Linked DNA regions of Homo sapiens. The protein of the gene in region 1 interacts with the protein of each later gene in a pairwise test. Each region holds a gene or a part of one and is shown in the gene's direction. Other genes may lie near its edges.

The links. The genes of interacting proteins can lie anywhere in the genome.
Region 2: the proteins of LBX1 (region 1) and IQGAP1 interact in binary tests that used the Homo sapiens proteins (3 or more experiments, as listed by UniProt).
Region 3: the proteins of LBX1 (region 1) and KIF5B interact in binary tests that used the Homo sapiens proteins (3 or more experiments, as listed by UniProt).

What each region holds. Positions count from the first base shown.
Region 1 is NC_000010.11:101,226,429-101,233,932, reverse strand, and holds LBX1 (transcription factor LBX1), read left to right. Parts: upstream 1-4,469; 5' UTR 4,470-5,117; coding exon 5,118-5,442; intron 5,443-6,142; coding exon 6,143-6,663; 3' UTR 6,664-6,939; downstream 6,940-7,504. UniProt on the Homo sapiens protein: Transcription factor required for the development of GABAergic interneurons in the dorsal horn of the spinal cord and migration and further development of hypaxial muscle precursor cells for limb muscles, diaphragm and hypoglossal cord.
Region 2 is NC_000015.10:90,391,147-90,398,369, forward strand, and holds part of IQGAP1 (ras GTPase-activating-like protein IQGAP1), read left to right. Parts: intron 1-7,223. UniProt on the Homo sapiens protein: Plays a crucial role in regulating the dynamics and assembly of the actin cytoskeleton.
Region 3 is NC_000010.11:32,018,298-32,025,520, reverse strand, and holds part of KIF5B (kinesin-1 heavy chain), read left to right. Parts: intron 1-2,484; coding exon 2,485-2,673; intron 2,674-3,263; coding exon 3,264-3,381; intron 3,382-4,233; coding exon 4,234-4,295; intron 4,296-4,389; coding exon 4,390-4,499; intron 4,500-5,121; exon of another isoform or gene 5,122-5,561; coding exon 5,562-5,663; exon of another isoform or gene 5,664-6,958; coding exon 6,959-7,019; exon of another isoform or gene 7,020-7,133; coding exon 7,134-7,205; exon of another isoform or gene 7,206-7,223. UniProt on the Homo sapiens protein: Microtubule-dependent motor required for normal distribution of mitochondria and lysosomes. Can induce formation of neurite-like membrane protrusions in non-neuronal cells in a ZFYVE27-dependent manner.

The sequences.
Region 1 (7,504 bases):
CTACAGTGGCCTGATTCCAGCCTTTACCTTTTCTGGATCCCCACCCGCTTTGAGAATCCTGGGTGTTATATAATATTGCTCCCAGAAAAATGTGCCCACCTGGGTACACATATAAATTTCTGAGATTTACAGAGCCCCTGAAGCCCATTCAAAGAGCCCTTGGGGGACCTCTGGTTAAGAACCCCCTGGTTCAGGAATTAAGGGGACAGACTTGAATAAGAAACAAAACAAAACAAAAGGACAGTGTTCCAATCCTGATCACTCCAAAACAGGCTGTGTGACTTTGGATGGGTTACTTAACTTCTCTGGGCCTCATTTTCCTGTTATGTAAAATCGGGGTAAGAGCATAGCTACCTAGAAAGATTGTGAGTAATAAATGAAATGAATAAAACTCTTAGCCTGGAGCCAGGCACAAGGTAAGGGCTTATGGTATTTATTGTCATGGTTATTGTTGCTGTTACTGCAGACAGTGGCCCAGGGCAAAATGTAAAAACCAAGTGGGCAGTCCTGACTTAGCCTGGGTGGCAGGAGGCCGTTTATCATAGTCCACTTCCATAGGAGAAGAAACACTCTGAATTCCACACAGAGTGTCAGAGTAGCAGGTCTTCATGGGACAACAACAACAACAGTAAAATGATCCGCACTGCTGGCCAAGTTAACTTGTTTCAAGCAGTGTCAGACCCTTTTCTCTAAAGGAACTCTGGCCTGAGAGTCAATGCTGGTGCTTATACAAATAATCTGGAAATGAATGGGGGTACCAAAACAATCCAGAGTGAATCCAATGGAGTCTTTGGGGGTTTAAGCGAATTCTTCTCCTGTGTTAAGGTTTAACCTGTTTTGTTTGGGTCTGCAGGGTCCCCTTATTGTGGCAATTCATGAAATGCTGTTTCCCTCTTCTTTGTCTGGAATATTCCCTAAACTGAGGGAAAGCAGATTTTTGGCAGAATGATCCCTTCCCTATCCACTGAGAAAGAATAAACCTGGACCCTGGCTGTTTAAGCAGCAAACAGGAATTGAGGATCATGGTAGCATATAGATTATGCTCTGAAGACAGGTATTCCCTCTGTGGAGCAGACTCTGGGAATCAGCTGCTTTCAGCTCCAGGTGAGAAGATGCTGGCCCAGCTGACTGGGGGTGGGGAGACCCCCAGAGTGTCTGCCTTGCCCCAGCATGGGGGCTCAGTAGGGGATTGGGCAGAAAGATTGGAGCCCAGAATGTCAGGGCTGGCTCTACCCCCACTGACCCTGTGTTACTCATTTCTGGAATCCTCCTAATCTCTAAACTCCTCTGAGGGGCCCAAACCATTCCCCTCCACATTGCACAATCATGTATACCCCATTTGCTCTATGGAAAGTCATTCAACCGATATTCAGCGGGAGCCCGGTGTCTCCTAGGACTTCGAAGGTCCGAGATGAACTGGAATACCCAGAGGAAGGCTCCTGCCCTCAGGTCTGGCAGAGGAGGCAGGTAGGGGTCAGTACACAAACCCAAAACATACCTCATTGCTCTGCAAGAGGGGTACAAGAGGCAAGCGGATTGGGGTCCCAGGAGTCCAGAAGATTCCAGACCCCCACACAATGCGGTTTTTCAGCAGCGAAGGTAGGGGTGGGACCACGGTGTTGGGAAAAGGTTGGTGTAGCAGGTGGGCTGGTTTCCAAAGGTGGCCTGGATAAGGGGATCTGGGTGAATCAAAACAACAAAACACAGGGTGATACCACAGACTTCCCCACATCCCTGCACCTCACACTGCACTCCACACCCCAGCCATATGGTGTGCCCAAGTGTGTTTAACCAAGAGGCCAACCAATTAGGTCAAAAGAGCCAAGCCATAGGATTGGACAGCAGGTACAGGTCAGCCAGGGAAGAAGAGGTTTGGTGTTGGTGGTGGAGGTAACTCAGCAGATGATTGTGAGACGTCGTGTTCCTTTTGACATGGTGTGGCTGAAGACTAAAGATCTCAGTACTAGCCAGCAGGATAAGACATTAAGAACACGCCAAGCAGAGGGACCCCTCTGCTCCCCAGTTCATGTTCCCCTTCCTGTCAGCTTCCCAGTAACCCTGAACTCCGCTGGTCTTGAGGATCTGGGAGATGGGCAACAGCAGGGGATTGGCTTGTCCTTAAAGTCCTATCCTGTGGGCTAGTACCAGATGCGATGCAAAGACTGAAGAGGACAGGAAGGGTGTGGAAGTATGGGAGGAACTCTCTCTCTCTCTCTCTCTCTCTTTCTCTCTATTGGGATCCAAGGGTCCTTGTTCCTGGATCTAGAGGGGCCTCCCTGCCTCCCTGCTAGCCTCACTTGCCTGAGGCTCTGGGTCAGGGGGTTGGGGTTATGGCAGGAAAAGGCTGAAATGGGATCCTGAGGGCAGGAAGTGAGAGGACTGACCCCTCTTGGCCCCAGAGCTTCCAAGCCACCCAGATTCAGCTCCCCAACGCCCTCTCCCACCGGTCCGCCTCTGCTGGTCTCTAGGCTCTGACTCCTCTGTTGCTAGGCCCAGCAGCACCTCGTGGCTCCCAGGGCAGCGCAGAAGAGTAGAGACAGGTCTGCCCTGGAGTGGGTCTGCAGCTCTGAGGGAACTGTGATTCCCATTCTCACCAATCCTGCCTCTGAGCATTTGTCTTCCCCCCACTCGCTTACTGCCACCCCGAAAATGCAGGACAAAGATGAGTTAGAGGGTAGGGGTTCTTCCCAACATTCACAGAACTGGGGCACCAAACAAGAACCCTTTCTCCCTACACTGTCCTTTTTACCCCAGAGAGCTGCCAGCCACAATTCCAAACAAACAACTGAAGGTGAGATCATGAAACCTATCTCTGCTGTGCAGAGGCCCCCTACGCTGAGGCATCCAGAGAAAGAACCTGCTTCCCGCCCCGGAGCCCAGCTTAGCTCACTCCCTCTCTGGGGTTAGATATGAGGGGAGAGGGGGCAAGAAATCCTAATCTTCCCATTCCAACCCTTGGCCTGGGCCACAAATCCTCACTTTGGCCTCTCTGGGCCCTTTTCTGGTCCAAGCGGTGCTGCCCAATGCCCAACCTCACCGCCCACCCAGGAGTTTACAAACAAAGCCAGGGCCAGGGCTGTGTGTGTGTGGGAGGGGAACAGCCCTTCTCCCTGGACTCCAACCCCCTCTAGGTCCTCCCCTCCTTTCTCCAAGGGCAGAAATGGAAAATTAGTAAGGAGGCCAGTGGCCCCACATAAACAGAATGGGGTAGCAAGACAGGAAGGCCTGAGGGCACAGCCCTGCTGGAATGCCTCAGGGAAATGAAAGAAATAGCTGAGTTCAAACACACCTATATACCCACAGGTTCACACACATTTACACAAATATACGCATGGAGAAACACACACAAACACACATTCAAAAACACAAACACCTTCAAGTAACAATGCACACAACATGTTCTCCCGATATTCACAGATCCCGGGCCCTAAGGTCTTTAGCCCCAGCCTAACTGGAAGCCTGGCCTCCCTGCGAGTTCCTGAGAGCAAAGCCCCAGCCGCGGCCTGGCTCCCGCCGGGCCCCCGCCCCGCATCCGGAACAGCTGGAGTCGGCCTGGCCATGCACTCAAGCCGGGCGCTGGGCTAGGCGGGGCCGGCAGCGGGGCCCCGGCCGGGGCCCGGGCGGAGCGCAGCAGGGAGGCACGGAGCCGGCCCCGTTAGCCCCGGCACCTGGCCTGGCTACTCTTCAGACGCCCATCATCAGGCCGTTGGTGGCCCCAGCCAGCCTGGGGAGCGGCTGCCGGAGGAAAGTGAGCAAGATTGCCGGAGGAGGTAGGGCGGCCGCTTCGGAATCAGGCCGGGGAGAGGCGTCCAGAGCCGCCAACAATTCCCTCCTCCGCCTCTCCGCGTGGAGAAGGCTGAGCTCTCCGACTAGCCCCCTCCCCCAACCCCTGGGGTCCTCCACCCCCTTCCCGCGTCGCCCACCCAAGGCTGCGCAGCCGGCTCTGACCTCCTGCGGGCCAGCGCAGGAGGGCTTCAGATTCCCTCTCCCCAGGCGCGTCGCCCAGGCAGTGGGGTGAGGGGCAAGAGGGTCAGAGGTAGAGGCGCTGGGCTCTTGATCTCAGCTCCGCAAAGTCCACTCTGGGTGGCAGCGGGGCCCACCCGGGCTCCTGGTCCTACCTGGCCCGAGCGGCGGCCGCGTCCCTCCCGGGCTGGGGTTCCCACCACTCTTTCGGGCTCCACATCCCGGGTCGGAGAGACCGAGACCTTCGGGCCGGTGCGGTCATTGCAGCTAGGCCGGCGGGAGGCGGGTGCGCCAGGAGCGCGGCTCGCAGTTTGGGGTGGGGGCGGTGGCTTTTCAGTCGCCCGAGGTTCGGGTGCAATAAAGGAGCAGCTAATGTAATTTACAAACAGCTCGGGCCGAACGCAGCGCAGCGCCCGGACTGACAGGCGCATTAGGCAGGCTAATTCCAGCCGGCTCCTCCTACCCCCGGCCCGCTAATTAATGAGCTTCCCAACTTACAGCCGCCTGCATTGGACAGACAGAGAGTGAAAGAGAGGGCGAGGGAGAGGGAGAGAAGGAGAGAGAAGGGGGGAGCAGAGAAGAGAGAAGAGAGAGGGAGGGAGGGAGAGCGAGAACAGGAGGAGAGAACAGAGGCAAAGAAGAGAGGAAAAAGGGAGAAAGGAGAGAGAAAGAGAAAGAAGTGCCGCTGCAGATAATTGATTACACCGCGATCAAGGCTAACTTGTTAGCAATAGTCAATTGCCCCGTCTCTCCGCCTCCCTCGCAGTCCGGGATCGGCGCCCTCGCCTCGGCTCTTCCAACTGCGGCCGCCAGGACCCGGGGCCAGGAGCCACTGCCGAGCCACCTGACACCTTTAAATAGCACCGGGGTTGGCGAAACTGGAGCCCCGCGCAGCGCGCCCCGGCTCCGGCCCCGGATTGCTGGAAGCCCCAGCAGCAGCGGCGCCCGCGTCAGCGCCCTCTTCCCGGGGCCCCGCGCTGTTCTCCCCTCCTCAGCCGCCGCGCTAATCGGCCCCGCGCCCGGCCCGCGCCCTGCCCAGTGCGGCCTCCTTTCCACCCGCCGCTGCCTGCCCGCGCCGTCCGGCGCCCGAGCTGCCCGCGGGCTGGGTCCCCGCGGCCCGAGCCGCCCCGGCCGGGACCCCGAACAAGGCCGAGATGACTTCCAAGGAGGACGGCAAGGCGGCGCCGGGGGAGGAGCGGCGGCGCAGCCCGCTGGACCACCTGCCTCCGCCTGCCAACTCCAACAAGCCACTGACGCCGTTCAGCATCGAGGACATCCTCAACAAGCCGTCTGTGCGGAGAAGTTACTCGCTGTGCGGGGCGGCGCACCTGCTGGCCGCCGCGGACAAGCACGCGCAGGGCGGCTTGCCCCTGGCGGGCCGCGCGCTGCTCTCGCAGACCTCGCCGCTGTGCGCGCTGGAGGAGCTCGCCAGCAAGACGTTTAAGGGGCTGGAGGTCAGCGTTCTGCAGGCAGCCGAAGGTAGGCGCAGCTGCTGGGTTCCCCTGCACCCAGCGCCTCGCGCCCTGTGCCCTGCGCGCTTCGTCCCCTATGCCTCTGCTCGCCTCTGCCCTCTCCGGCCGCCAGGGCCTTCCAGCCTGAGCAGCTGCTTATGGGAGTGAAGATATGTGGGACGGGACCCAATCCTTATTTCCCAGGGACCTCTGGGTAGGCCAGAGCTGGGGGGTGGCAGGAGAAGGGTGGCCAAGCTCTTTCCGCAGTCTGCTTGCTTTGCCGGGCTCCCTTGCGTTCCCAGTGTCCTGGGCGCTCTTAGCCCGGCTACTCGGCGTGGGGAATCGAGAGTCTTTTGCCGGGGACCTTATGGGTAGGGTAGAGTTGAAGTGATTGGGAAGGGATGGAGAACCAACATTCACACCGCAATTAGGGTGTCTCTGTCTGGCTTTCTCATACCCTTAGAGACTTTGGGTCTTTCAAACCAACTCTTAGGTAGGGGGCAGAGACCAAAACAATTTTTCCTAGGGACTTCTGGGAGACCAAAGACAGGAGATGGTTTGCCATAGCCAAGACTTGCCCTGGTCCTGGAGGCTGAATTAAATCTGAGAAGGGAACATTGGTAGACTGCAGGCCGGACAGGCCTGGGTGGGTTACGGAGTTACGGGGGCGAGAGCCAGGGTGGGCTTCCTCTCTCCCAACGCGAGCCTACACTGTCCTTTCCTCCCAGGCCGCGACGGTATGACCATCTTTGGGCAGCGGCAGACCCCTAAGAAGCGGCGAAAGTCGCGCACGGCCTTCACCAACCACCAGATCTATGAATTGGAAAAGCGCTTTCTATACCAGAAGTACCTGTCCCCCGCCGATCGCGACCAAATCGCGCAGCAGCTGGGCCTCACCAACGCGCAAGTCATCACCTGGTTCCAGAATCGGCGCGCTAAGCTCAAGCGGGACCTGGAGGAGATGAAGGCCGACGTAGAGTCCGCCAAGAAACTGGGCCCCAGCGGGCAGATGGACATCGTGGCGCTGGCCGAACTCGAGCAGAACTCGGAGGCCACAGCCGGCGGTGGCGGCGGCTGCGGCAGGGCCAAGTCGAGGCCCGGCTCTCCGGTCCTCCCCCCAGGCGCCCCGAAGGCCCCGGGCGCTGGCGCCCTGCAGCTCTCGCCTGCCTCTCCGCTCACGGACCAGCCGGCCAGCAGCCAGGACTGCTCGGAGGACGAGGAAGACGAAGAGATCGACGTGGACGATTGAGCGGCGCCCCGGGTCTTCCGCCGCCCTGGGCTCCTAGCGCTCGAAAGCCCAACGCCTCCCGGACCGGACCGCCGAGGGGAGCTGGGACCTCCTCTGCCAACTCCCGCCTCCTCCCCTGTCCCCGGCCCCGGACTCGGCTCCTGGCAGCCGCCTCTTCCCTCTCGAAGCAATAAACCCAGGCTGGCCGGCCGGGCCGGCCGCCACCAGCGGCCTCCGCCGCCCCGGAAGCCCTCGCCGTGCAATTCTGTATGGCTTCTATATAAATATTTAAACCTATATAGCGGGTTCTTCCCACCGCAGCCTGATTTTTCCTTTCTTTTATTATTATTTTTTAAATCTCGGAGATTTCGATGTTTTCAAAGCTCTCGGGCTGCCGGGTTTGCTGAGGGCGAGACAGAAACCAGGGCGGGGAACACTAACCCTGCGGTCTAGGGGAGTGGCAGCTCCGGCTGTTTTGATTTTTCTCTGCATGTGGCGAATGCACCGGCCCGCTCCTTCCTCGCCTCCCTCGGCCTTATTGCAGTTGACTTCTATTTCCTCGGGCCTTTTTTCCTCATGTGGGAGGGGAAGAGGTGGGCAGTCAGGTCCTGACTTGCAAGTTTCAAAATCGATCTTTCCTCCCCACCCTCTGAGAGAAAAGTCTGTTTTCGATGCCATTTCTGCCTCCTAATGCCCACTAATGCTGTTTTTAAGATTCCTCCCTCCCTCCCGCATTTCCTCGGACTGACTGTTGGAGTCCGGCTCTTAGGGACAATGCAGGGGGAAATCCAACCAACCAACTATCGAAAACAGAACCCAAAGCCCTATAATTATTTTGTACTCTTTTTAGAATTTTTTTGCA
Region 2 (7,223 bases), on another chromosome or scaffold:
AGGATCACTTGAGTCCGGGAGGTCGAGGCAGCAGTGAGCCGTGCTCTCACCACTGTGCTCTAGCCTGGGTGACAAAACTCCTGTTTTTGGTGGGGGGAAAAAAAAGAAAAGATTTATTTGAGTATGTTATAGATGTAACTGGGAAGCTGGTGGTTGAGGGAATAAGTATAGGTAGGGTATTTATTTATGGCAATAAGTAGCCTTGATGAGAGTTTATCATGAATCACTGTGATGGGCATTTAAGTGTACTGAACGGTTTTCCAGGTTTCTATTGTTCAGTCTTATGCTTATTGTGCATGTTTTGGGCGTTACCAACTGTGGGGTGGAAATAGCATTTTTAGGATTTGAAGTTATTGGCTTTAATGTTTCACTTATGCTTCATGAATTTTGATTTATATATGAATTGAGTCTCCTCCTCCTATGACCTGCGGAGTGGCTGCTTGGTTTGGGAGGCTTAGAAGCGTGGTGCTGTTGGTGTAGGTCCATCTGTTTGGCAATATTCAGAGTCAGCATCCTCTGCATTCTTTGTGAAGTGAATGTAAAGCTGCTCTTTTCCTTTTTCAGATGCCCCACAACCTTGTGGTCTTAATTTTAGAGTGTCATTTTGTTATCAGTGATTCATTTCTTTTGTTCTGGTGCTTGTGTTCTTTTGCAGAGTCCCAGGGTAGATGTAATTATAGATCATGTATTCTATAAGTGAGCTTTGGTGGAAAAGTCAAGTGAGGGATAATGAAATATTTGTAATTAACGTTTAATAAAAAGGGTGTTTGAAGTGGTGCTAATAAACAAGTGTGTGTGTATGTGTGTATTTTAATTCTGAAAATCTTAAAATGCTACAAGAAAGTCCAGAGAACAGTACAACAAACATCATTGTATTCCAGAACTAACAAATGTTAACATTTGAGATATTTCCCTTTCCTCTAAAAACAAAACAAAACAAAACCAACATCGCTACATTTAAAGTCTTTTTTGTGCCCCTCTGGTCCCATTCTTCCTTCTCCTGGGGCAAACACTAACCTGTATTTTGCATGCCCTCTTGTGTCTAGGCTTCTTTTCTGAGCTTAAAACTTCCAGGAAACTGGAGCTTGGGTTTCAGTGATGACTTAAGTGAGGAGGATAACACTTGTCTTTCTAAATAATAGAAGATGACATAGCAAGGCATGCTATATCACTAGAAAAGGGGGCATTTTCTCATATGAAGTTTATAAGAAAACAAAAACTGTAAGATCTCTGCCATTTAAATTGTGGATTTCAAGGTTTGGAAGGTCAAAGAATTTGGAAGCTGCAGCTGTTCTGAGAGACCATCTTGTGCTCTGTGGAGCTTTGGTGATTCCACTGAGGTGACCTGGGGGTGAGAGGGAAGAGCTTCAACACACCTTCCTTCCCCCATCCAAAGTAGCTCTGCTTTTGTTTTACTGTTGAATTTCTTGAATAAAATTCACTTGTTACAGAGGGTGTTTTGGCTAACACCTCCCCTCCCCCAAACACTACCAATAACTAGTTCAACTGCTAATCTAGTTCAACCATCTCATTTAATGAAGAAACTGAAGCCTGAGTTTTTTGGTCTACTTGTAGTTTTCTTGATTGAAGAATGTTTCTATCTTTTTTTTTTTTTTTTTGTACAGTCTCGCTCTGTTGCCCAGGCTGGAGGGCAGTGGCGCAATCTTGGCTCATTGCAACCTCCACCTCCCGGGTTCAAGCGATTCTCCTGCCTCAGCCTCCTGAGTAGCTGGAATTACAGGCATCCGCCACTACGCCTGGCTAATTTTTGTATCTTTAGTAGAGACTGGGTTTCACCATAATGGCCAGGCTGGTCTCAAACTCCTGACCTCAGGTGATCCGCCCGTCTCAGCCTCCCAAAGTGCTGGAATTACAAACGTGAGCTGCTGTGCCTGGCCTCATCATTTTTTTAACTATGGTTGTTAACCAGGTGTGTGCATTAGAATCACCTGGGGAACTTAAAAAAAAAAAAAAATACACCTATCTGGGCCCTACCATAGAGATTGTGGTTCAGTAGGTCGGGGTGGGAGATCCAGACACATAGTAGTCCCTTGGTATCTGTGGGGGTTTGGTTCCAGGACACCTGCAGATATCAGAATCCACAGTTGCTCAACTTCCTTATATAAAATGGCATAGTATTTGCATATAACCTTAGCACATTGCATAATATATACTTGAAAACATCTCTAGATTACTTATCATACCTCTAGATTACTCTAGATATATCTCTAGATTACTTATCATACCTGATCCAATGTAAATGCTACATAAATAGTTGTTACACTGTATTGTTTTATTTATATCTTTCTTTATTTTTTTCTGACTGTTTTTGATCCATAGTTTGTTGAATCCATGGATGCAGAACCCATGGATAAGGAGGGCCGACTGTATTTTAAATGTCTCTAGTGATTCCGATGCTCCTTCCTTGGCCCCCACTCCTCCCCCTGTTGAGAAACAAGATTTAAAACTCTGCCTTATGCTGGGATATCATGACCTCAGTAGAATGTTACACTTCATCCTATTTCTTCATCAGGTTCTGCATTAGCCAGGCATTTTATTTTCAGCTACTCTAGAGCGTCTTTTTTTCTGTCAGGTGTTTTTTTCCAGTATAGGAAAGTAGCCCATTTCCTTTAAAGACCACCCAGCAGGCATGATCCCCTGAGGTGTTTTTTTGTTGAGTGCTTTTGCATACTTAAGGAGTAACTGACCTGGCCCGGTGGCTCACGCCTGTAATCCCAGCACTTTGGAAAGCTGAGGTGGGCGGATCACCTGGCGGTCGGGAGTTCGAGACCAGCCTGACCAACATGGAGAAACCCCCGTCTCTACTAAAAATACAAAATTAGTCGGGCGTGGTGGCGGGTGCCTGTAATCCCAGCTACTCGGGAGGCTGAGGCAGGAGAATTGCTTGAACCCGGGAGGCAGAGCTTGCGGTAAGCTGAGACAGTGCCATTGCACTCCAGCCTGGGCATCAAGAGTAAAACTCTGTCTCAAAAAAAAAAAAAAAAAAAAAAGGCAGTGGAGACATTTGTGATGATCTTCAGGTTTTTTTTTTTTTTTTTAAGGGAGGGCATAATAGTGGCATATTACCCTAGCACACCCTGCCCATTGGCCTGGCATCATGGAAAGGTGCCTGGTCTATTTTATGGAGGCAATCATAAAACTGGGTGTGGTGATTTTTGTTGTTGTTTAAGGCTTTGATTTTAAAAAATCAAGGTTGGAAGCACCTATTTAGATTGTAAACTAGAGAGGACAAAGGAAAGAAGCCTGGGAATGTTATGGTGAGAAAAGAGGACTAGAATCCCTGTCAGCCACCTATGTGGCTGCTGCCACCCCTAAAAAGTGTTGTGAGTGCACCAAGGACAAATGGCATGCTCTTCGTTATTAGTGAGCTATTAACCTCTTCCAGTTCTTTCTCCTACCTTGGTGAACCGGCCTGTATCTTGTGTGTTCCGAGGGCCCCTCTTTCCCCTCTAGCGCTAGACCCAGTTTGCCTTTTTGGTTTGGTTCCATCCTGTTTCCTCCATAACCTCCACCCCTCCCAAGTTGGAGGAGCCCCAATATCTGGGATTTACAGTAACTCTAAGGCCAGGAATAAAGATCATAGAGATTGGAGGGAGAAAAGCTTCCCCTCTTCAGTTCTATTTATAATACCTCTACTTCTACTAAAAGCTCCACCTTTTAGTACAGTGGCCCCATTGTGTATCCTAGGGCACTCCATTTTCTCCTCTGCCTGTAACAGAGCTCTTTCTTGGGAAAAGAGAGGAGTGTGTAGAGAGTGAATATGACTGTGTAGAGGCAGTGAGTATAAGTAAGAGAGTATAAGTGTAGAGAGACGAAAGTTTTCTGTGGCTGTGGGTTTGTGTTTCCCTGAAAGGTTAACTGGGAAAATTTAGGGGTAATTCCTATAAATGAGCACTGGGAGTGGTTGAGAAATAGAAAATGTAGAGATTTCTGCTTTTCTTCATTGTTTGGAGAGCAGCTTCAATATTGAAATTAAGCCGCTGTTCTAATGAGATATCACCTAACGATTCAAGGCTTTTTGCTAAGGGCTGCACAATAGATCAAGGATACATCTTAAATTATTATTTATGCTTAAATTGAAGCTTATTTTTATCCTTTTGCCTGTTCTTATTGAGTTTTACATTTGTTTAGGCTAAGGAGCGGGGTTTTTTTTGTTTTTTTGTTTTTTTTTGAAACGGAGTCTCGCTCTGTCGCCCGGGCCAGAGTGCAATGACGCTATCTCGGCTCACTGCAAGCTCCGCCTCCCAGGTTAACGCCATTCTCCTGGCTCAGCCTCCCGAGTAGCTGGGACTACAGGCGCCCACCACCACGCCTGGCTAATTTTTTGTATTTTTAGTAGAGACGGGGTTTCACCGTGTTAGCCAGGATAGTCTTGATCTCCTGACCTCGTGATCCGCCCGCCTTGGCCTCCCACAGTGCTGGGATTACAGGCGTGAGCCACTGCGCCCGGCCGGCTAAAGAGCAGTTGTATAGGAGCAATGAATACCGTTTCACTCAGTTGAAGGAGGTAACATTTAAATATGTGAGGTATGTTCAGTGCTTAGGTCTTGGACAGGAGGAAGTAACAGATCAGAATAAGGTTCAGGTGAAAAGAACCAAGAAGAGAACGTGTCAGGCAGGACAGAACAGGGAATTCTGCAAGTGAGAAGAAAGTACGATTAGTACTGGAAATGGAAGAAAATTCAGCTAGGTTAAAGGTCACAGGAAGAAAGTTAATTCCAGCATTCTCTGAGTTTCAGACAATTCCTGGTGTGCGCTTTCAAGTCTGTCATGGGCCACCTTTCTGCTGCTGAGTGCCCGTACCCTAGCTCAAGGAATAGGGCACACCCCTCTTGTAGAAGGGAAGGTAGGAACGCTGGCTGGTTGGAGACTGTCAGCAACTCCACGGTGATAAGTCGAGCTTAGCACTAAGTAGAAGTATGTCACTTTCTGTAATTTAGAGGAATTGAAAAGGTATCTTGGAAAGAAATTAGTTCTTGGGAACAAAGTCTTTTTTGTGCATATGTCTTTACTGTTGGCATAGAGCATTTTCTGGGATGGGCTCTTCAGATCTCCTCTCCCTGTAAGTGATTTCAGAATTCCATGAATGTTGGGATATGTCCAGGCTGGCACCCTGGGATCATGAAAATAGAAGTTAAGACATTTAAGAAGCAAGAAAACAAAATGGGTAGGTGAGGTGACTAGGAAGAATATCATGCCCAGCACTTCTAGAATTCTCAAAATGAGGAGCATCACTTAAATTTTGAGGGGGATCATTTTTAGGATGGTGACCCAAGCTCTCTTTGTACAGATGAGAAGTCTAGTTATCTCATGAGACCCAGTGTGACTAAAGGACCATAGCATGTAGCTGCGTAATGGCACGGTGGCACTAGGAGCTGATCCATTCATTTATTTATAATTACCAAGGGGAAGTATGGGGTGAGATTTATTCTTAACTCTTAAAATGGTGACATACACTATTTTAAGAATAAACCTCCATTCTTTTTTCGGATATTAATTTAGTGCAACGGCCTTGGACAGGCTCCACCATAAGAAGTGGGTTGCATTTAAAAGTGTATTTATTAAAAGTGGTTGAAGCTGAGTGCTTTTCTGTATTGTAACACTGTTGCAAATGGGGAGTATTCATTCCTAATGTGGCTGCCGAAAGCTTTTTACCCTACCATGTAGCTGAAAATTTAGCAAAAAAAATTTTTTTTTTTTTTGGAGACGGAGTCTCGCTCTGTTGCCCAGGCTGGAGTGCAGTGGTGCGATCTGGGCTCACCACAACCTCTGCCTCCCGGGTTCAAACGATTCTCCTTCCTCACCCTCCCGAGTAGCTGGGATTACAGGTGCCCACTGCCATGCCTGGCTAATTTTTGTATTTTTAGTAGAGATGGGGTTTGACCATGTTGGCCAGGCTGGTCTCCAACTCCTGACCTCAAGTGATCCACCCGCCTCGGCCCCCGCAAAGTGCTGGGATTATAGGCGTGAGCCACTGCACCCAGCCTAGCAAAATTTAAAATTAAGAAATGTAAAGAGTTGAACTAGTTAGTACCCATTATTATTAAGAAAAGTCATGTGGCTCTATATTCTCATAGTACGAATAATTAAGTAAAATAGAAATTCAAAAGTATGAATAAAATTTCTTTGAAAATCTTGAATGTTGAGATATCTTGCCACAGTGAAAAGAATCAGACTTTCTGTTTTGGCAGGTGTGAGTTCTGATTCTGGTTTTGCAAGTTGCTTAACGTCAGGGAGTGAGCCCAAATTTGTCCTTTGCAGAATGGGAACGCTATGCATCTTACAGAGCTGCTGTGATGGTTAATTGCTTGGCACAGTGAAATACAGTAGGCACTCAACAAACTTTTTTTTTTTTTTTTTTTTTTTTGAGACGGAGTCTTGCTCTGTCGCCCAGGCTGGAGTGCAGTGGTACAATCTTGGCTCACTGCAACCTCCGCCTCCCAGGTTCTCACCATTCTCCTGCCTCAGCCTCCCGAGTAGCTGGGACTACAGGCGCCTGCCACCACACCTGGCTAATTTTTTACATTTTTAGTAGAGATGGGGTTTCACTGTGTTAGCCAGGATGGTCTCGATCTCCTGACCTCGTGATCCACCTGCCTCGGCCTCCCAAAGTGCTGGGATTACAGGCGTGAGCCACCACGCCCGGCCTGAACTCAATAAACTTTTATCCAAGCACCTGGATAAAGGATATCCTGAATTTTTTCTTTTCTTTTTTTTTTTCTTTTTTTTTTTTGAGATGGAGTCTCACTCTTGTTGCCCAGGCTGGAGTGCAGTGGCACTATGTTGGCTCACTGTAACCTCTGCCTTCTGGGTTCAAGCGATTCTCCTGCCTCAGCCTCCCAAGTAGCTGGGATTACAGGTGCCTACCACCATACCCAGCTAATTTTTGTATTTTTTAGTGGAGACGGGGGTTTCACCATGTTGGCCAGGCTGGTCTCAAACTCCTGACCTCAGGTGATCCACCCGCCTTGGCCTCCTACAGTGCTGGGATTACAGACATGAGCCACTGTGCCCGGCCTCCTGAATTTTCACATTAAATCTGCAAAAGGAAAAGCAGATTTAATGTGAAGATGACAGGAATTTTCTGGGCACTTTCAAGGTCCTAAGGTTGGTAGCCCTAGTTTTTTCACTTCAGACCTTAGCTTTTATCTGAAGGAAAACACCAGAAACAGAAGATACTTCTAGGGAGTGGAATGGGGGTA
Region 3 (7,223 bases), about 69 Mb from region 1:
GCCTATAGTCCCAGCTATTTGGGAGGCTAAGGCACGAGAATTGCTTGAGCCCAGGAAGTGGAGGTTGCAGTGAGCCAAGATGGTACCACTGCACTCCTTCCTAGGTGACAGAGTGAGACTCTGTCTCCAAAAAAAATAATAATAATTCATGTGTAAGTTATTCTTTGGACATAAATTTTCAGTTCAGTTGAGTAAAAATACCTAGAAGTGCTAGGTTGTACGTTATGACTATGTTAGCTTTGTAAGGAACTCCCAAATGGTCTTCCAAAGTGGTGGAAACATTTTGCATTCCTATCAGCCATGAATGAGAGTCTGCTGTTCCACATCATTGCCAGTGTTTGCTCTTGTCAGTTTCTTGGGATTTTACTAATGTATGGTGTTATTTTATTGTCATTTTAATTTGCAGTTGTGTTTTTTCTTATTGTTGAGGTTTTCTTTTTCTTTGAGACGGAGTCTCGCTCTGTCACCCAGGCTGGAGTGCAGTGGCGTGATTTTGGCCCACCATAACCTCCGCCTCCTGGGTTCAAGTGATTCTTCTGCCTCAGCCTGCCAAATAGCTGGGAACACAGGCGCGTACCACCACGCCTGGTTAATTTTTATATTTTTAGTAGAGATGGGATTTCACCATATTGTCCAGGCTGGTTTCGAACTCCTGACTACAGGTGGTCCGCCTGCCTCAGCCTCCCAAAGTGCTGGTACTACAGGCATGAGCCACTGCGCCTGGCCCTGTTGTTGAGTTTTGTTTTGTTTTATTTTGAGATGGAGTCTCGCTCTGTCGCCTAGGTTGGAGTGCAGTGGCATGATCTCGGCTCACTGCAAGCTCCTCTTCCTGGGTTCAAGCAATTCTTCTGCCTCAGCCTCCCGAGTAGCTGGGACTACAGGCTCCCACTACCACACCTGGCTAATTTTTTGTATTTTTAGTAGCAACTGGGTTTCGCCATATTGGCCAGGCTGGTCTTGAACTCCTGACCTCAGGTGATCTGCCCGCGTCAGCCTCCCAAATTGCTGGGATTACAGGCGTGAGCCACCGTACCTGGCCTCCTATTGTTGAGTTTTAAGAGTTCTTCGGCCGGGCGCGGTGGCTCACGCCTGTAATCCCAGCACTTTGGGAGGCCGAGGCGGGCGGATCACGAGGTCAGGAGATCAAGACCATCCTGGCTAAAACGGTGAAACCCCGTCTCTACTAAAAATACAAAAAATTAGCCGGGCGTAGTGGCGGGCGCCTGTAGTCCCAGCTACTTGGGAGGCTGAGGCAGGAGAATGGCGTGAACCCGGGAGGCGGAGCTTGCAGTGAGCCGAGATCCCGCCACTGCACTCCAGCCTGGGCGACAGAGCGAGACTCCGTCTCAAAAAAAAAAAAAAAAAAAAAAAAAAGAGTTCTTCATATGTTTTGGATATAAGTCTTTTATCAGATAGTGTTTTGCATTATTTCTCTGTGTCTTGTTTTTTTTTTTTTGTTTTTTTTTTTTACTCTCAACGTCATTTTTTGAGACTAAAAATTTTTAATTTTAATGAGGTCCAACTTACCAAGTTTTACATTAATAGATTGTGTTTTTGGTATTGTATTTAAAAACTTGTCACCAAACCCAATATCACCTAGATTTTCTCCTGTGTTAAAAGTTTTTTTTTCAGTTTTGCATTTACATTTAGATCTATGATCCATTTGGAGTTAATTTTTCTGAAAGGGGTAAGGTGTGTACCAGGATTCATTGTTTCACATCTGGATGTCCAGTTGAAGAGACTGTCCTCCCTCCATTAAATTGCCTTTGCACCTTTGTCAGAGATCAGTTGACTGTATTTTGTGGTTTTATTCCTGGGCTCTTTATTCTGTTCTGTTAACCTGTTTATCTGTTCTTTGCCAGCACTGTACTGTTTTGATTATTATAGCTTTACAGTAAGTTGCATAGTGTCAAGTCCTGTGACTTTGTTTGTCCTTAGTGTTGTGCTAGCTATTCAGGGTCTTTTGACTTTACATGTAAACTTAATCATGTCATCTGCACAGTTTTATTTCTTCCTGAAGGTGAAGGAATATACAGTGACCACAATTCCTTCTGGTTGAGCTTAAAGTTCATCCTTTCCCTGCCACCTAAACATCCTCTTGTTAAATTTTAAGCTGAACGTGCACATGATTAACAATGAATTTACTGAAGAGGTCCTGTAAAGAGGAAGTGAAAAAATTGAAAGAGGCAGAATTTATTAGTTTGGTTGTATTTTTGTGTTTTCTTTAGGTTTACATTTATTTATTTTTCTTGTTGGCATGTATTAACATTATTCTCAGTTTTTAAAAAAAGGAAGGCAAAAAGTAAGCTGTATTTATTTACCTTTCGTTGAAAACAGTAATAAAAGAAAAAAATAAGATCCAGACTTTGTATGAATATTGAGTAATACTAAAATATATTTTATAAAAAGATTTTATAGCCTAATTGGGAAAACACACATTGAACATTTTTGGCTTTAATTTTTTATTTTACTTTTTCCTTACAGCAGCCTGAGGGAACTGGCATGATAGATGAAGAGTTCACTGTTGCAAGACTCTACATTAGCAAAATGAAGTCAGAAGTAAAAACCATGGTGAAACGTTGCAAGCAGTTAGAAAGCACACAAACTGAGAGCAACAAAAAAATGGAAGAAAATGAAAAGGAGTTAGCAGCATGTCAGCTTCGTATCTCTCAAGTATGTTATAGAACAAAGTTTATTCATTTTTTTGAAACAGCCACATAGAAATTTTATTTATTATACAAGTTTTCAGAAAAATGTGTGTCTATAGGTGAAATTTAGTTGTTTTTTTCCTAGTCTAGCTGCAGTAAATTTGAATGATTTAACTGAGTTATATTTGCCTAACATAAATATGGGTTATGTATAGAAATTTACCAGAATGATGTGACTGGTGGTAACTTGTTAAAGACTTCAGAATTCCAGGGTGGGCAAAACTGCAGGGAACCAGTTTCCTGGCTTGGCAACTGAATGAATGGGGCCATTCACCACTATCAGAATTTCACAAGGAGGGAAGATGGTAACGTTAGATGGTGGTATCTGTAAAATTAGTATTTCATATTTGAGTCTTCAGTGCCTTAGTTTGCAAGTTATGATCACCAATGAATTAATTGATTACATTCTTTAACATTTCAAAATTGGCTCCTGAATATTTTAGTTTTAAATATTCCCAAATTTATCATATATAGATAATGAAATGTTTACTGTCAAATATTCTTAAAGTGTATGCATATGTTTTCCACTTCATATCAGTATATTTTTTCCAAAAGCATGAAGCCAAAATCAAGTCATTGACTGAATACCTTCAAAATGTGGAACAAAAGAAAAGACAGTTGGAGGAATCTGTCGATGCCCTCAGTGAAGAACTAGTCCAGCTTCGAGCACAAGGTATAGCTTCCAACTGTTTATGAGTTACATCTGTGTTCTTATTTTAGTATAATTGTAGTAAACTTAATATTCACACTGAAAGAAATAGTAGGAATATGGCTGATTTCGAATGGTAAACAAATCATACATATTAATGTTGCTTTGAAACATTTTTTTGTTGTTGTTTTGAGACGGCGTCTTCACTCTGTTGCCCAGGCTGGAGTGCAGTGGCACTATCTTGACTCACTGCAACCTCCACCTCCTGGGTTCCAGTGATTCTCCTGCTGCAGCCTCCCTAGTAGCTAGGACCACAGGCACATGCCCCCACGCCTGGCTAATTTTTTACCTTTTTTGTAGAGACAGGGCTTCACCGTGTTACGCAGGATGGTCTTGATCTCCTGACCTCGTGATCTGCCTGCCTTGGCCTCCCAAAGTGCTGGGATTACAGGCATGAGCCACTGTGCCTGTCAAAACATATATATATATATTTTTAAGATTTTGTTTGAATATGGAAATAGCCAATCTGGGGATTTCCCACAGTTACGAAGCGGGGTGTGTGTGTGTGTGTGTCTTAACATAGGGGACTTAGGAGTTATCTCATTTCTTTACCATTCCCTTAACTAATCTGTTCTGGATTAGGCCAAAAAAAAAAAAACCAAACAAACCATAAAGGAATACATAATACCAACACAATGGATGTAACTTGTATACTAGTCTACATGTCATTGAACTTGGAGAGCAGGTGACATTTGGGTAATTTGAAGTTGAATATTGCTAAGGAAAATGCTTATTGTAAAATCCATTTGCTCCTTGGTTTATATGAGGAACCTTAAAGGCTTATTTCACTCTTCTATTTTCTCTCTATTCAAACAGAGAAAGTCCATGAAATGGAAAAGGAGCACTTAAATAAGGTTCAGACTGCAAATGAAGTTAAGGCAAGTTTGATGTCACATTTCTAACAGCTTTAATTAATCAGTATTAATTTTGATTAGTCTGACTTTAACATCCTTTTCCCCCCCAAAATTTTAGCAAGCTGTTGAACAGCAGATCCAGAGCCATAGAGAAACTCATCAAAAACAGATCAGTAGTTTGAGAGATGAAGTAGAAGCAAAAGCAAAACTTATTACTGATCTTCAAGAGTAAGTATTATACTTCTCTAGTTAGGAGGAAAGAATCGGTTACTGATGGTCATGGTATATATTCTTATTAGAAACCTGCAGTTTTCATCAAAATTACATTTTTATCTTGGAAAATAAAGAATTTTCTCATTTATGAGTAAAACTTCTAAATTCCAGGTGAAATTTTTGAGGCTTTTTTTTAGGTCTTTTGATCTAAATTATTCAGTAAAAGAAAAAAATCCCCAACCTAAGTCTATTATTGCATACCACAGTCTTCTCCAAATCCTTTATTTAGTTTCCTTTTTTAAAAAAATTCTTGGCTGGGTGCAGTGGCTGATGGCCTGTGACCCCAGTGCTTTGGGAGGCTGGGGTGGGAGGATCACTAGAAGTCAGGAGTTCAAGACCAGCTGGGCAACATAGTGAGACTCCATCTCTACAAAAAATAATTTTTTAAATTAGCTGAGCTTGGTGGCACATGCCTGTAGTCCCAGTGACCCAGGAGGCTGTGGCACGAGGATTGCTTGAGTATTGGAATCTGAGGCTGAAGTGAGCTATGATTGTACTACAGCCTGGGTGACAGAGCGAGACCCTGACTCAAAATTCTTAACTGGGAAAAACTTTTCTGGAAATTCTATGGATTTTCAAAGGTTTTTTTTTTTTTAAGTTGTCATCTTAGTTTATCTAGAAGCAATTTCCCTGCCTCCATAACCATGTGCACATACATAGAGTTTATGGAAGTCAGAGTTTGCAACAATTTGAGTAGGAACCAAGAAGAGAATAACATAACAAAATAATGATGAGGTTTGGGGCGTAGGTCTTACTATGAATACCTGATGGAAGTAGGCATAAGGATTCAGGAAGATGAAAGACAGAGGAGAACAGAATCATGATTTCAAACCAAAATACGAAAAATTTTGTATGTCCACAAGTAGCCAGGTCCCTTTCCTCTTTTCCTCCATAGGGTATAGGATAACAGAAAAGTCCTTGATGAGATTATAGAATTTAAAAGTTTGGAAATTTTAATGATGACATTGAGAAAACTGTGATATTGATACTGTGTTAATTATTTTTTTCTTTCGTCAGCCAAAACCAGAAAATGATGTTAGAGCAGGAACGTCTAAGAGTAGAACATGAGAAGTTGAAAGCCACAGATCAGGAAAAGAGCAGAAAACTACATGAACTTACGTGAGTAATTGTTTTTAATTAAAGTTTAAAAATAAAAGCTAAATTAGAGGATTATAGGCATTACCTTTGGATATAGCCAGTGGATACATATTTTACTTTGTATGGGCTAAAGGATTTTTTCTTAAATCCACTGAGTTGGTTTGATTTATATCTAAATACTTGGAATATATACTTGCATTTGAGTGAAAGCAAGGTCTTATATTTCATTGTGGTTAAGATTAAGGTTTCTCTTTATTAATCTGCTTGCTGTTTCTTTATCTCCATATTACTTCAGGATCCAGCATAAAAATGAACCTAAAACAATATATTAAGTAACTTCGAAGATTTTAAGATCTAACACAAAAACTGAGTTTTTGTTAAATTTTCTCTTGCATAAAAGAGCATTGTGGTGTTTAGCCTTGCCATTTTGAACAGAGGTTTTCATGGTTTACCTTTTCTCATTTTCTCAAAACTCAGTTTTCTAGAATCTTAGCAGGTAGAAAGTGCATGATTATAATTTTTCACATACCTTGAGTTTGTGAGACAATTTGCAAATCAACTGATATTGTTAGGATAGTTAGAACATCAGGACCAGTTCAGAGTGGATTATATGAAGATTCTGCTAACTTGCAGCTGTAATTTTGTTTAGAATACTTGTAATGTAAAATATTTTAGTCTTTGACAGTTTATAATCTATAATTAATCAGTATCATTTTGGATAAATAGCAGTATAATACATGTGGCATATTTTAAAATATAAATTATAGAACTATTCCTTATTCTTTGAATTCTGCCACATTTTATTTCATCTCTTCCATTGCTATATATGGAATGTATAACAATAGACTGTTGTTTAGAAGGCATATGAAAATTTTTTGAAATTGCAAAGCTGCAGTGGCTCACACCCATAATCTCAGCACTTTGGGAGGCCAGGGCAGGAGAATCAGTTGAGCCCAGTGTTTGAGAATCAGCCTAGGCAATATAGTGAGACCCCGTCTCTACAAAAATTTTTTTAGACAGGGCTGATTGTACATGCCTGTAGTCCCAGCTATTTGGGAGACGAGGTGAGGAGGATCACTTGAGCCCAGGAGGTTGAGGTTGCAGTGAGCAGTGTTTGGGACAGAAACTCTGTGTCAAAAAAAAAAAAATTTTTTTTTTGAAAGACAGCACAGGTAAATTGTTTAAAATAGGCATCTTGTATTTATTTAAATTTAAGAATTTATCCTTTCAGACACAAAATATTTTATTCAACTCTCATGCTAAGTACAATATACAGAATAAAATTTGAAAATATATGTTTGTTCTTCTACTGTTAGGGTTATGCAAGATAGACGAGAACAAGCAAGACAAGACTTGAAGGGTTTGGAAGAGACAGTGGTAAGAAAAACATGAAAATAAACAGGATTGGGAAATATTTTGTGGGTTTTTTCTACCATGATTATTCTAAATTTAAAGTCTGAGCTCCAAAAATATCGCTGTTCTTAATCCAAGGCAAAAGAACTTCAGACTTTACACAACCTGCGCAAACTCTTTGTTCAGGACCTGGCTACAAGAGTTAAAAAGGTAATGTAACTATGCCGA